2 linked regions of the Homo sapiens genome follow. The protein of the gene in region 2 purifies or fractionates together with the protein of the main gene of each other region. This does not show direct contact. Each region holds a gene or a part of one and is shown on either strand. Other genes may lie near its edges.

Evidence for each region.
Region 1: the proteins of AQP5 (region 2) and ATP1A2 purify together in Homo sapiens (affinity purification with mass spectrometry; one large-scale study listed by BioGRID and IntAct). This does not show direct contact.

The regions. Positions count from the first base shown.
Region 1 is NC_000001.11:160,129,051-160,132,852, reverse strand, and holds part of ATP1A2 (sodium/potassium-transporting ATPase subunit alpha-2 precursor), read right to left. Parts: coding exon 3,764-3,802; intron 3,588-3,763; coding exon 3,453-3,587; intron 2,752-3,452; coding exon 2,562-2,751; intron 2,432-2,561; coding exon 2,256-2,431; intron 1-2,255. UniProt on the Homo sapiens protein: This is the catalytic component of the active enzyme, which catalyzes the hydrolysis of ATP coupled with the exchange of sodium and potassium ions across the plasma membrane.
Region 2 is NC_000012.12:49,960,343-49,964,906, reverse strand, and holds the start of AQP5 (aquaporin-5), read right to left. Parts: upstream 3,036-4,564; 5' UTR 2,890-3,035; coding exon 2,527-2,889; intron 2,241-2,526; exon of another isoform or gene 1,983-2,240; intron 1,416-1,982; coding exon 1,251-1,415; intron 816-1,250; coding exon 732-815; intron 406-731; exon of another isoform or gene 282-405; coding exon of another isoform or gene 225-281; exon of another isoform or gene 1-224. UniProt on the Homo sapiens protein: Aquaporins form homotetrameric transmembrane channels, with each monomer independently mediating water transport across the plasma membrane along its osmotic gradient. Plays an important role in fluid secretion in salivary glands.

The sequences.
Region 1 (3,802 bases), on a different chromosome or scaffold from region 2:
TTCTGGGCAATATAATACAACATACTATAAGCCTTTAGTTTGCACCCTTGTGCTAATGAGATTCAAATCTCCAGTCCTGACCATCTTTCATGAGCTCTAAACCATACTCCAATGTTCACTGGAACATCTGTCTTTCCTGGGGTATCTTATAGACTCTTTAAGCTTAAGGTCAACATTGAACTCCTTTTCTCTACTCCTGCCACCCCACCAAGCCTGCTACTGCTCCCTACCTTAGATGTTGTCCTCTCTATTCATCCTGTCCCCTTCTCTCCTGTATCTTCCTCACCTTCCATATCCAGTTTGGTCACCAAGTTCTCAAAACATTTCTCAGACATGGCTATTCCTCTCCATTCCCTTTGTTTCTGCCCTAGTTCAGGTCATCATTCTTTGCCTGAACTATGGCAATGGCCTCTTAACCTGTCTCTCCCTGACTCCAGTTCTTCCCCAAATCCAGTCCCTCCTCAAACCAGGTAGTCTCCTAAAAGCTCAACCTCCCCCGTGACACTGATGGCTCTCTGTGGCCTGCAGGATAAAGCCCAAGTCTGGCATTTAAGCCAAGTCCTTCCAACTGGCTCTGACCCAGTGTTCCAGTCTCAACCCCCAGTACTCCTTGCCACCTCTCCCCTGCCAACCCCTACACACGCTCCGTACAGTCTAGCCACGCCAGGGTACACACTGTTCCCTGATCTTGACATGCCTTCCTCTCCCTCACTGCTTTGCAGAATACTCTTTGACCTCCAAAGCCCAGCTCAAATATCATTCCTTTTGTCAAACATCGTCCAGTTCTCTGAGGCAGAATTAATGCTTCCCTGAGCTGACTTCCCATAGAGGTCCTCTGCCCAGGCCTCCGTGATGGTTCTGATCACAGAGAGAGGCACCTGGCCAAGCAGCAGGAGCTCAGGCTTTCCGGTCAAGCAGATCATGCTTCATAGTCCCAGTCCATCACTTACTGGTGGTTTTATTTTGGGGAAAAGACTTACCCACTTGCAGTTTCCATTTGTTTTACTTTTTTTTTTTTTTTGAGATGGAGTCTTGCTCTTGTCGCCTAGGCTGGAGTGCAGTGGCCTAATCTCGGCTCACTGCAACCTCTGCCTCCCGGGTTCAAGTGATTCTCCTGCCTCAGCCTCCCAAGGAGCTGGGATTACAGGCACCTGCCACTACACGTGGCTAATTTTTGTATTTTTTTTTCAGTAGAGACGGGGTTTCACCATGTTGGCCAGGCTGGTCTTGGACTCCTTATCTCAGGTGATCCACCAGCCTTGGACCCCCCCAAAGTGCTGGGATTACAGGCATGAGCCACTGTGCCCAGCCTTGTTTTACTTTTAACAGGGATAATGATGCCTGCCTCGGAGACAGAGTGGTTATGGGGTTCAGAAACCACATACACCCACAGAAACAAGTCTCCTGGTATGATAGTTAAGAAATAGCAGACTGCCTTGGTTCAAGTACCTGCTCTATGACTTACACTAGCTGTGTGGCCTTGGCATGTTACTTTGTGCCTCAGTTTCCCTCTTTGTAAAAAAGGAAAAATACTGGTGCTTATTCACAGGGTTGTTGCGTAGATTAAATGAAATCATAGAGGTTTAGTGCTTAGAATAGTGCCTGATTTATATGTGTCCTCCCTGGCACAGCTCATTGTCCCATCTAGATGTGTCATGTGACACAAATTGTTTACTATGTATCAGGCACTGTGCAAGGTGCTAGAGTTTGCACCTTGCACAGTGTCTGAAACATAGTAAACAGTAAATATTTGTTGAATGAAGAACAAACATAGCACAGAGGAGGGAGTGGTCAGTGAGAAGCAATTGTAGTTGAACAAGAGAACCTTGAGTGGGAGGCATTCTGTGGGGTTATGGGCTGAGCCACTGGGAGCATACAAGAGCCTGCTAATCCCATCCTAAGTTGACAGAGAGGGTGGGCAGTAGTTGGGAAGGGTAGGACAACTAGGTCTTCAAGATAGGAGTGCCAGATTATGCTTCAAATCAGAATGGAAGGGTACACATGCAGATGGGACAAAGAGCTGTGCCAGGGAGGGAGAGGAGGGGCATGGGACACTGGCCTCTCTGAGCAAAAGGGATAAGGGTGAGTGCCCCAAGGCAGGGGTGGGCCTTTCCTTGCAGATGGACAGCTTCTTCTCTGAGTCAGTGGGAAGGAGGCCACCGTGGCCTGGGCCTTTCCAGGGCAGCAGCCACTGCAGCTCCTTGAACTCTGGCATGGGGGAGGCTAGAATGGAGGGGAGGATGGGAGGCCAGTACCTTGATGCCTGCGCTTCGGCACTTGCCCACAGCATCTGGCACAGCAGCCCGGGGAGGGTCAATCATAGACATGAGCCCCACAAAGCAAAGCTTCTCCGTGGGAAAGTTCAGCTCATCCGTGTCGAATTTGAAGCCCCGAGGAAACTTTCCAGATGGCAGATTCAGTTGACAGAATCCTAAAGGGGGGCAGAAGGGATCAGTGAGATCCGCAGAGTGGCTTCCTGGACGCCCCCACAGTCCCCCACCCCAGGGATGCCGCAGAGGCTTGGGAATCCCCTTCTGAGCCTCCTGTTTCTGGCCTCTCACCCAGCACACGCTCCCCAAGTCCCCCCAGCTCCATGTAGGCATTTTGAAAGGCATCTTGCATCTCCTTGTCGAGCGGGATCTCCTTGCCCTGCACCAGGATGGTGGAGCACCGGTCCAGAATGCGCTCTGGGGCCCCCTTCATCACCAGCACGTGGCTCTGGGGGCTGTCTTCTCGCTCGTGGATAGACAGCTGGAGAGACAACAGGTAGTTACAGAGAGGGCCATACTTGTCTTGGTAGCGCGGCATAGAGCAGCAGCTGGTAAGGAAACCACCTTAGAAAAGTAGCCCCAACCCATCAAAGATTGTCAACAAAGAGAATCTCCTTGTGCAGGGGGGTGTTTAGACCTCACAGTTCCAACACTTGTAACCTGAGAGCCACCTCCGTAGGACAGTCTTTCATTCAACAAATATTTATTGAGGTCAGGTTAAGACAGGCACTGTGCTAGGGGCTGAACGGCTCCCTCCTCAGCATCCCCACCACCACCTGGCCTCAGGGGGCTTTACCTCTATGGATAATAAGGAATGCTGAGATTGCATTCTTGGCATTTAACAGGTGCCTAAAGGCTAAGGGGCACCATAAAGGAATTACAGAATTATGGTTTCACTGACTGGGGTAGAAGAGTTGGAAGGCTAGGCCAGAGGATGCGGAGCTATGGGAAGAAGAGTTGAGAGAGTGACAGATTGTAGTAAGGGATGGAGTAAGGTTTGGGAGCTGGGGCTAGTTGCAATCAGACATGCAGTCATATGAGCTGTCCTGGGGGACTTAGCAGGGGGAGGGAACATGACCCTCAGACACCCCCACTCCTGCTAGTGATGATTCCCCTTGGCTTTGTCCACCCTCACCCATTTATATCCCTCTCTCTTCCTCTGTCCTGGCAACCCAAGCAGACCTGGTACTTGTTGGTAGAGTTGAAAGGAATCTCTGCCACCTTGGGGTTTCTGTCTCTCATTTTCCTCACTGAGCCACAGGAGAGCTCAATGCACTTGAGCAGAGCTGACTCAGAGGCATCACCAGCTGTGTCCCGCTGCCAGAAGAGACAAGAATTCAGTGTCAGCATGGGAGGGAAGGGAGTGGAGGATCAGGTGAAGGCGGCACTGAAACCCCCAAGGCAGCCACATCATGTGAGAAGGAAAGCTGGGGCCAGCAAGAGGCTTTGGAGACACCCCCAAAACATACCTGGTGTGTGTCCTGACCCCCTACCTTAGACACGGAGATGTTCTCCTGTCCTGCCTTGAAGAC
Region 2 (4,564 bases):
GGACCCTGAGAGGAGACAGACATGCAGACTTCCAGACCTTCAGGGAGAAAGACTTCCTCCCACCTCGGGGACGAATATACTGACACACCACTCCCAGGGACAGAGACATGGACCACAGACACCTAGACCCTCAAAGAAGGCAAACAGATTCCCAGAGGGACAGGCTCCCTCCAACCACACCGGAAAGAGAAGCAAATAAACCTTCAGAGGGGACACGTGGGTCCTCAGAGAGACGGATGAACAGAGCGCGTGTCCCCTCCACGCAGGGATAGAAGCAGACCCTGGAGAGAGTGACCATGAGCTTCCAAAGGGGGGGCAGACAGACTGTCCACAGGGACAGACCCACAGGAAGACTCTCCCAACCCCCTCAACAGGGACAGATAAATAAAACATCAGAGAGGACCAGCACGCAGACACCGAGGGGGACGGACACCAAATCCTCAAGGGAATTGACACAGAGCCCCTCTGCACCTCCAGGTTCAGTAGAGCCTCTTCCATAAGCGGATAGATACTCAGACTCCCTGTCCCCAGCGGTTCAGGCCATACAAAGCCACCTCTGCCCCTCTAGCTGAATCCCATCCCCTACTGTGTCCCTTTCTCTGTCAGCCACCACTCCGTGGCCCACCCCCAAGCTCTAGACCCACAGAATCCAGGTCTGGTGAGCTCTGAGCTGCCACTGCTGGGTCTCCAGGCCCTCATCTCCAGGGAGCCAGGGGAAGGGACAGACTCACCCAGTGAGCGGGGCTGAACCGATTCATGACCACCGCAGGGCCAAAAGAGCGGGCTGGGTTCATGGAGCAGCCAGTGAAGTAGATCTGGATAGAGACAGGGCGGTGGAGAGAAAGGCAACATCCTGGTCCACTCCCACAGAATCTGGACTCTCTCAAGGTTACACTGCAGTCCAGGGGCTCAGCCAGGTCTCAAACTCAGGCTGGCAACCTCTCCCTCCAAGGATCCCAGCTGCTTGGTTAACCATGGACCCTTAACTACGCCCTCCTCTCTTCTCTGCTCTGAGGTTGGGTTTGATTCCTGTCCCATCCCACCTCCTACTTACTCCCATCTTTCCTCAGCCCAGAGGTTTTGGGGGGATCAATTCTGGGGCCCAGTAGGGCCAGAGTCCAGGAGCCCTAAATCCAGGCCTTAAACTCTGCTGGACTCATCCATCTGAAGTGGGCTCCGCTCCAGGGCTCCATTATTTGCCTTGAGTGCCTGCCCCACCCTCACCCCAGCCCAATGTCGGTACTGCTCACTCCGACAAGGTGGCCCAGGGTGACAGACAGGCCAATGGACAGGGCTGGGGAGCCCACAGGGCTGGTGCGGCGGGAGTCAGTGGAGGCGAAGATGCAGAGTGCCAGCTGGAAGGTCAGAATCAGCTCCACCACCATGGCCTGGCCCTGCGTTGTGTTGTTGTTGAGCTGCAAGGGGATAGCGGGTTAGGACCCCGGCCACCTTCTGGCTGTATAGCCAGGGGCTCGGGGAGTAGGGCTTTTGGCCTCCAGGGACACTTAGAGCACCTTGGCACCTGGAAGCCAAGTCCTGTGGACATCGCCCCAGCGAAGCCATTTGTTAAAGACACTGTACATTTCATAGTTTGCACAGGCTTGAAGCTCAGGCCTGTGGCCAAAGGGCAGAGCGTCAGGGTAGCTTTTCCTGGACACGGGCCTATCAATGGCTCTGCCCAACCCCCAGCCCCCATAAGCTGGCATTTACCCTCCATCCTGTGGGCAGCTGCCCGGTTTGCCTGCCTCACACCCCATCCCGGCCTCCTGCCCGTGCCTGGCCCCATGCCAGTGCCAGCCTTAAACCCGTCTCTCCAGTGCGGCTGACTCACAGCTTGACAATGGCCAAGCAAATCCTCCTCTGTGTTTGATTAATGAACCCAGTTTGCATGGGGTTGGGGGCTGACTCTGGGGCTGCAGGAGGTGGGAGGGAGGCAGGGGTGCGGGGTTGAGGGGAGGAGCACAGGTTGGGGAAAGAGGGAACCAATACTCAACAGAAACTGCTCTGCACTGGCCCCACATTAGGGGGTTCCTATCTACGGTTTCTAAATGTGAGCCCCTTGACACCTGCTGTGGCAGACACAACCATCCCCATGGAGGCGCTGAGAACAATGAAGCACAGACAGGCCAGGGTCACCCAAAGCCGTGATGACAGCCCGCTTTTCTCTGGTGGTTCTACTCAACCGCTCCACTGAGGTGATGGGAGAGGTGAGGGGCCCAGGAGGAAGGTGGAGCTCAAAGGTGAGACAGGAGGAGGCAGAAGTTTCTGGCAGGAGAGGAGGGGTAGCAGGCATTGGAGAGAGACCAGGGTGGGCCAGCATGAGGGGAGGGGGAGAGGAGGTGGGCAGGAAGGGAGCACATATCAGCCTGGAGAGTTGCCTTCCTGGCCTTGGGAGGCTCTTGCCTTCCTGGTGAAGGGTGTGGGCTGGCCCACTCTGCGGCACCCCTTTTTTCCAGGTGGGGTAAGAGGCCTGGTCCTGAGCCCACCCCAGGGTCGAGGCTCCCACCCCCCCCCCAGGGCACTCACCGCGTTGACGGCCAGATTGCCCCGGGCATTGAGCGGTGCCACACCGTAGAGGATGCCAGCCCCGGCAATGGCGCCCACCAGCTGGGCCGCCACGTAGAAGAAAGCCCGGAGCAGCGAGATCTGGTTGCCCACCAAGAGGGCCAGGGTGATGGCGGGGTTGATGTGGCCGCCGCTCACGGGTCCCAGGGCCTGGGCCAGCGTGCCTATGGCCAGGCCAAACGCCAGCGCGATCTGCAGGATGGTAGGCAGCGCCGACGGCCACTTGAGGGCCGAGCCCAGGCCAAAGAAGACGAAGATGAGGGTGGCCAAGAACTCTGCGAACACGGCCTTGAGGAAGGCCACGGAGCACACCTCCTTCTTCATGGTGGCCGCGGGGGCCCGGCGGCAGCTGCCGCGGCGGGGGGCGCCCGTTGGGTCGCAGGCGGCGGAGGAGGTGGATGCGGCGGGGGCGGGGGCCTGGCTGCGGGGCGCCGCGCACTGTCCCGCGCCCACTCCGAGGCTGGCGGCCTGGCGCGGGCCCTGCTGGGGCGCGCTATATAGGGGGCGGGCGGCCGGGCGCGGGGCCGGCGCGGGGGGGCAGGGGGCGGCTCCTACGCTCGGGGGCCAGCGCGGCGCGCGGGTTGGGAGGCTCCAGGCCGCTGCGGGCCCGCCGCTCTCCGTCGTCCAGCGCAACCCCGGCGCGACCCCCGCCCCCCGGCCGGGGCAGCCGCCGGCCCGTCCGGGCCACGTGACCCAGGCGGCGGTGTAGACCGGCCCAGCGTCCCGGGCCCTGCGCATGATGCGCCCAGGTTGGCTCCCGCGCTCTCCTCGGTGCCGTGCGCCCCGGACTCCCTGGGAGACGGGGCTCGGTCCCGGCGCTTCACTCCGACCTCGGGGCGTCTAGCTCCGCCGGCCTTTACCGCGCTCCGTGCGCGGCCTTCCCCTTTTCTTCTCTTCGGGCTTTTGGTCCAGCTCCTCCTTTTCCTCCTGCGACCGGAGCATCCTGACCCGCCTCACCCCCGGCTGGGTCGGAGTGATGCTCGTCCCGCAGGTCGGCGCCGCTCACCTCCCTCACCGCCGGCGGCGGGGGCGGGCGGCCGGGCTGGGTCCTGCAGGGCGGTCCGGCCGTCCGACGTGGGCCGCTCCCGGCCTGGGCCGGGCGAGCTTCTGGGCTTGGAAGGCTGGCGTTTTGGGAAAAGTGGGCACCGTGCCAGCCTGCCCCGACGCTTCGCAATCCTCGACGCCCGGTAGCTGGGCAGTACCTGGACTAGGCAACGGATCCCCGGAGGCGCCCTCTCCCAGGCCGGGGTTCCCCTTGTCGACGGGACGGGACGGGGGTGTGACGTGAGGCCTTGAGACTCTGGGAGTTGGAGTGGGGGAGCAGGGGGGGTAGAGACGCACCACTGACCTCCCAAGCGCGGTCTTGGCGTCTTCCCTCTTCCTGCTAGAAGCCCCTCACCCTGGATCTAAGACTCTCCTTCTCTTCCTCCACCTCCCCTAAGTCTCCTTCAAACCCTCACTTGGTCTTGATCTCTCTCCCCTCGAAATCTGTTTCTGTCAGTCAGTCTTTGCAAAACCCTATTTCTCTTTTTGTCTCTGTCTTTGGTCTCTGACCCTCTCCCTCTGCCAGCCTCTTCCTCTCGGTCTCTCTCCGAGAGGTCTCTTTCTCATTTCAGTCTCTCTGTTCTCCACCTCTCCATCTCTCTCTCTCTCACACCTTCTCATTTTCTGTTTTTCCTTCCTGCCTTTTGCTGTCTTAGTCTCTCTGTCTCTCTCTATTCATTTCTCTCATCCTGCAGTTTCTGTCTCCTGGCTATTTTCACCTTTCCTCTGCCTCTTAATTTTTGTGCCTTTCTTTGTTTCTGTCTGTTTCTACCTCATTTTCCATGTCTCTCTCTCTTACATGTGGTCTTTCTCAGTCTCCCCAAAGTCAAGTTCTTCTACCCCTGGTCTGGGTGACACTTTCTTCCAGTTCCCATCCCCCTTCCCTCTGAGCTTGTAACCCCTTTGTGACCTGCTGCCTCCTCGCACACCACCCTCTCCCTCTTCCCACCCACTC